Linked DNA regions of Homo sapiens: region 1 is linked to region 2. Evidence: fine-mapped expression QTL. A gene starts in region 2. The other region holds a variant in brackets. All regions are shown on one strand. Distances are between the middles of the regions. Region 1 overlaps GGA3 (golgi associated, gamma adaptin ear containing, ARF binding protein 3). Region 2 holds the start of GGA3 (golgi associated, gamma adaptin ear containing, ARF binding protein 3).

Evidence for each region.
Region 1: its variant is fine-mapped to the expression of GGA3 in whole blood (TOPMed, PIP 0.98).

Annotation. Positions count from the first base shown.
Region 1 is chr17:75,238,661-75,241,160 of GRCh38, reverse strand. GGA3 (golgi associated, gamma adaptin ear containing, ARF binding protein 3) reads left to right here. Exons shown (of 17, transcript NM_138619.4): 11 at 104-349; 12 at 749-819; 13 at 1,053-1,372; 14 at 1,590-1,786; 15 at 2,078-2,247; 16 at 2,399-2,500. Among named protein-coding and RNA genes, the nearest start is that of GGA3, 22 kb to the left of the region's middle. RefSeq lists a silencer at 219-513. The variant T/C (reference allele first, on the strand shown) is at 1,118.
Region 2 is chr17:75,260,308-75,263,269 of GRCh38, reverse strand. GGA3 (golgi associated, gamma adaptin ear containing, ARF binding protein 3) reads left to right here and starts at 1,664. Exons shown (of 17, transcript NM_138619.4): 1 at 1,664-1,722. The coding sequence starts at 1,683. It overlaps MRPS7 (mitochondrial ribosomal protein S7), which reads right to left and starts at 1,391. Exons shown (of 5, transcript NM_015971.4): 1 at 1,287-1,391; 2 at 582-773; 3 at 403-466. The coding sequence starts at 1,369. RefSeq lists enhancers at 605-1,482, 1,279-1,688, 2,159-2,258.

The sequences.
Region 1 (2,500 bases), 22 kb after region 2:
CAGAGGCTGTAGCAGTGACCTCTGTGCCTAGGGTGCTGCCTCCTGCCACACAGCCACTAGAAGACCCCTAATTATTCCTGTTCTGCTCTGTTGACCCATCCAGGAAACAGTCAGTGCAGTAACCAAGGCACGCTCATCGACCTTGCGGAGCTGGACACGACCAACAGTTTGTCCTCCGTGTTGGCCCCAGCACCTACTCCACCCTCCTCAGGCATCCCAATCCTCCCTCCACCACCCCAGGCCTCAGGACCTCCACGGAGCCGCTCCTCTAGCCAGGCCGAGGCCACCCTGGGGCCCAGCAGCACAAGCAACGCCCTCTCCTGGCTGGACGAGGAGCTACTCTGCTTGGGTGCGGCCCACAGGGGGCGTCAGGGGCATCCCCTGACAGGGCTCTGGGAGGAAGGGTGTGTGGAATTAGGAGCCCTGAGCGGGGCCCCAGTGTGACTGTTGGGGTGGGCAAAGAACCCTGAGTTGGAGGTACTCAGTGAAGTTCAGCGACCCTGAGGGCCCCAGGGCCATCCTCCCGGTGGACTCTGCCTCCTGCCCTGCACCCCGCCCCACAGGCCCCCCGCTTCTGCATCATGGACTGGAGCGCTCCATTCCCCTCTGGAGGCTGCCTGCAGAACAGCTTCTCCCGGCGCCTTCACCCATTGATGTCACTTGTCACCTGACCCCTCCTCAGGCAAGGCGGGGCTAGGGCTGCCTAGCTCAGAGCCTCTTCTCATCCTGTTTTCTTCTCTATTGTCAGGCCTCGCCGACCCAGCCCCTAATGTTCCTCCCAAAGAGTCAGCTGGGAACAGCCAGTGGCACCTGCTCCAGGTAGGGGCACAGGATCGGTGACAGCACTACTGTGCCAAGGACCTCCACTTTCCAGCGTCATGTCTCCTGGGCTGCAGTTAGCTGTCCTTCCCTCCAGAGCGTGCCAGCTGCAGCGGGGAACAATGAGTGCCTCCGGGGCTGTCTTCCGTGCAGTCCTTGGAGGGCTGCGCCCCGTTCCAGCGGCAGGCCCTCCCCACCCGCCCTCGGCTCACCACCCTTTCTGTTGTTCATAGAGGGAACAGTCCGACCTGGACTTCTTCAGCCCCAGGCCGGGGACCGCTGCCTGTGGCGCCTCCGA[T/C]GCTCCTCTGCTCCAGCCCTCAGCCCCCTCCTCAAGCAGCTCCCAAGCTCCACTGCCGCCTCCCTTCCCAGCTCCTGTGGTCCCAGCCAGTGTTCCTGCCCCCAGTGCGGGCTCCTCCTTGTTTTCTACTGGAGTGGCCCCAGCCTTGGCCCCAAAAGTTGAGCCCGCAGTCCCTGGGCACCATGGCTTGGCGTTGGGCAACAGCGCGCTGCACCACCTGGATGCCCTCGATCAGCTTCTAGAAGAGGCCAAAGTGTAATGAGTGGGAGGAGATGTGGGGTTGCTGAGGGTTGGGCCTGAATGTGTCAGAACCAGAGCTAACTTTGAAGGGGTGGGGGTGCCTTGTAGTCCCATCAGTCAGGCTGGAAGGCAAGGGGTGGGCCTGGGTAAGAGCATGGTCAGGGGCCTTGGGTGAGAGTCCTGCAGCTCTGGCTGGCTCTCTGACGTGCTTTCCATCCTTCCCACCTCCCAGGACCTCGGGCTTGGTGAAACCCACTACCTCCCCTCTCATCCCCACCACCACCCCAGCCAGGCCCCTCCTGCCCTTCTCCACGGGGCCCGGCAGCCCGCTCTTCCAGCCACTGAGTTTCCAGTCCCAGGGCAGCCCCCCGAAGGGGCCTGAGCTCTCCCTGGCCAGCATCCACGTGCCCCTGGAATCGATCAAGCCTAGTAGGTGTTGGAGGATTGAGGTGGGTGGGGCGGTGGGGCCTATAGCCACGGAGCTGTAGGACATGCGACAGGGATGGATCCAGGCACTCTTTGCAGGGGGTCCCTTAAAGCCAGGCAGGCCTCCCTGCCTGCATTCTCAGTCTTAAGCTCCTCACTGAGCGCCTCTCCCAGATTCCGTTAGGAAGCACTGGACTCATCATGACCACGGAGTAGCCCTTTTCTCCTCACCGCCGGGGCTCTGTTGGGTGTCTCTGGTGCTGCTCCTCCCACACTCACGTCACGTTCTTACAGGCAGTGCCCTTCCTGTGACAGCCTACGATAAAAACGGCTTCCGCATCCTCTTCCACTTTGCCAAGGAGTGTCCCCCAGGACGACCTGACGTGCTGGTGGTGGTGGTGTCCATGCTGAACACGGCTCCCTTACCTGTCAAGAGCATCGTGCTGCAGGCTGCAGTGCCCAAGGTACCAGTGTCTCCCTGGGGCCAAAACGGCCTTATCTTGACCCTGTTGTGTAGAGGCCTTTGCAGCCAGCAGGTGGCAGTGTGTGTGTGCACTGCAGGTTCCATCTGGGGGCACCTACCAGTTCTCTTCAAAGGAGTTTCTCTCTCTTTAGTCAATGAAAGTGAAGTTGCAGCCACCTTCTGGGACAGAACTCTCTCCATTTAGCCCCATCCAGCCACCTGCAGCCATCACCCAGGTCATGTTGCTGGCCAAT
Region 2 (2,962 bases):
TGCCCTTTACTCCCATCCTCTGGTTCTGCGCTGGCAATGCAGCTCCTCTCACAGCACATCCAAAACAAAGTTTTTAAGTGCCTCCCCCTTTGCTAGACTAGGACAGAAAGAGTGGATTGAGATTTGTGGCATGGAGGGGGTGGGGGGTGAGGTGGGGAATGGCAGTTGTTTTATTTTTTATTTGTTCCTTTTTTTTTAATTGTGTGTTTACTTCCGAAACACCAAGGAATGGCAGTTGCTGACTCTTACAGGGCTTCATTAAAGCCCGTACACATGCAGGGAAGTTAATCTGAATAATAGATACATGAATCCATTTGCTCTTAAGCTACACTGAAAGTACCAAGTACAAGGCTACGGGGTAGGGGGGCAAGAAAGATGACTGAGGAGGGAAGTGCTGTTTACCTGAATCATGAGGGATCTGGCCAGTACTTTGTTTCCTCCTATCATCATCATGTTGGTGAATTTACTTCAAAGAGAAAAGCAACACGTTTAGCTCTCCAAGGCTGTATCACAGAATCCTCACCAGAAACCCTCCCTGGGATAGTCCCAGTCCATGTAACAAGTGTTTGTTTCCATCTAACCTGATGACTGGGTCTTCAAACACAGAACTTGTTTTCCCTGCTGGAGCAGCTTTGATGAGCTGAGTCTTCTTGAGCTCCCGAACATATTTCTCCTCCTCAGTTAGCTCCTCCACTGGCTTGCGATAATATTCCTTGTCAATCAAGGGATCCTTGAATTCAGGACTATAGCGGCTCCATCTCACCTGAGTTAGCCTGGGAGGGGGGGAAAGGAGGAGGCAGGCAAAAGCTGACTCCACAAGCGAGTAGGTTTGACTTAACAATAGGCATGACTGCCAACGCGCCGACGAGGGGGAGCGGCGCGGAGACCGCGAGCTAAACCTGAGCCACAACAATTCAGGCCCTTGTCCCAAGTAGGAGGACATTCCCCAAGCAGGCGGGTAAAGTCTCCTCCTGGTCAAGTGCTAACGGTAAGGATGGGCTTGGCGCCTACACACCCATCCCAATTCACAGGCGATCCCAGATCTGAGCTCTTTAGCTGAACCGCACTTTCAGCTCCGCGTTAGAACCCTAGATCAGCCAGACTCCTTAGGCGAGAGGTAGTCACTAAACCTTCGGATTGGCGCAGGGTCACGCAGCTAACTTAGAAGCTTGAATCCAGATACTCCGGCCCCCAGGGCAATGCTCTCTCTAGGGGCCCACGCGGCCTGCCTGTGGCCCCCTTCCTTCCTCGCAGCGCCCCCCCGCCGCTGCTCGCCACCCTCTCACCCTGGAAGCTGCAAGACAGCCCGCCGCACGCCCAACGCCAGGCCCGACCATCCTCGGGCAACCTTCACTGCGGGGGCAGCCATCTTGGCTGGCCACGAGGACCCCACAAGGACTGCCCTCGGCGCGCCTGAGCGAGTGACGGGAAACGGGTGAAAAAGACTCCTCAGGGTCCTAAATCTGCGTTTCTCTCCACTGATCTGGACGTTAGAGTTTTTCACTCCGGGGTCCAAAGGGGAGCGCCAAAAGGAAACCCTTGCCCTCCCTGTATCCGTCGCAGTCTGGCGCGGCCCTCGGTGACGGCACTCACTCCTCTCAGGACCCCATGCAGGCCCCGCCCCGTCTCAGCTCGTGCAGACTCTCGCGAGTTTTGAAGCCGCGGGGCCGGGCGGCTGCAATATGGCGGAGGCGGAAGGGGAAAGCCTGGAGTCCTGGCTCAGTGAGTAGCCGCGGCCGTTTCTGCCTGCCCTCGAGCCGCTGGGCTGCCCCTGTCTTCACCCCCACGTCCCCTCCCCGGGCTCCACGGCGTCGCCTCTTGGCAGCCCACGCCCGGTCTCGCCCTCGCCGCGAGCAGCCTGCGATCACGCCCCTTCCCTATCAGGGCGCCGGGCCCCAGTCCGGCCCCCGCTTCCCTCGCTGCGGCGCGTCCTCTTGCTCTGGCGCGCGGCGGCGTGAACTCGGGCTCCTGTCGGGCACCGCAGGCTCGGGGAAAGGCGACAGCCAAGATCTTCGGGCTGACATGCTTCGGCGCTTTGGGGAGATTGTGGTGGGGTCGCCGCCCGGCGGTGACACCAGGAACCCAGCGCCCCAATCCCTGACTAAGGGAGAAGCTTCGGATTGGGGCTGAGTCTCCGGTAGTGGTGGGTGCTGCCGACTGCGTTCAGTCGCCTGGCAGCTTCAGAATTGTGACCATGTGTTGGAGAAGTGACGGCTTCGCTCAGGCAGAATGCTTGAAGTGAGAATAATATTCCAAAGAGAGCGATGATAGAGAACAGAGAGCTCTACCTTTTTCCTGCAGTGACCACAGAAGCATGGTGAAATCGGTGTCGGGAATTCCCCCCCCACACACATACATATACCCCCTTGAATATCCTAACGAGTCAGTGTTGATAGCCTATTCTGAGTAAGGCTGAGGAGCACAGTCTGAAGCTGTAGTTATAGAAGCGTATTGCTGTCATTGCACTGTGAATTACAGTGCTACGAAGGAAATGTGTGTTAACCTGGTTAGCAGGTAGTACTCTGCCTGAGGGTTAATAAGTGAACTTTCCTGTAGGCTAGACCTGGAAGCCTCCTTTAAGTGGAGAGAGAAATTGGACTGGTAATGGGATAGGTGAGATACCTAGTATTGCCTTGTTCTGAGGTCTCTTATTTAGTACTGCTTCCGGGATCTTGGAGGTGATAGCTATTTCCTCAAATTGTCTGATTTTTCCTAGTAAGAAACCCCCTTCAGGAGGTTGAGCTTCAGTTTAAAGGGGAGCATATCCCAAAAGAGAGAAAAAGTAAGATCACGTTTGCAAAATCTGCAGTTGCAGGCAGGTCATAAGGCTTCTTTATATATGGAAGTGTTCTCCAAGGAGCTCAAAGTACTTTACAGATATTCATTAAATTAGTTTACCAAGTATTCTAGCAAAGCAGGCACTACTGCCATAATTTCACAAAAAGAGGACATCCTGACTCCA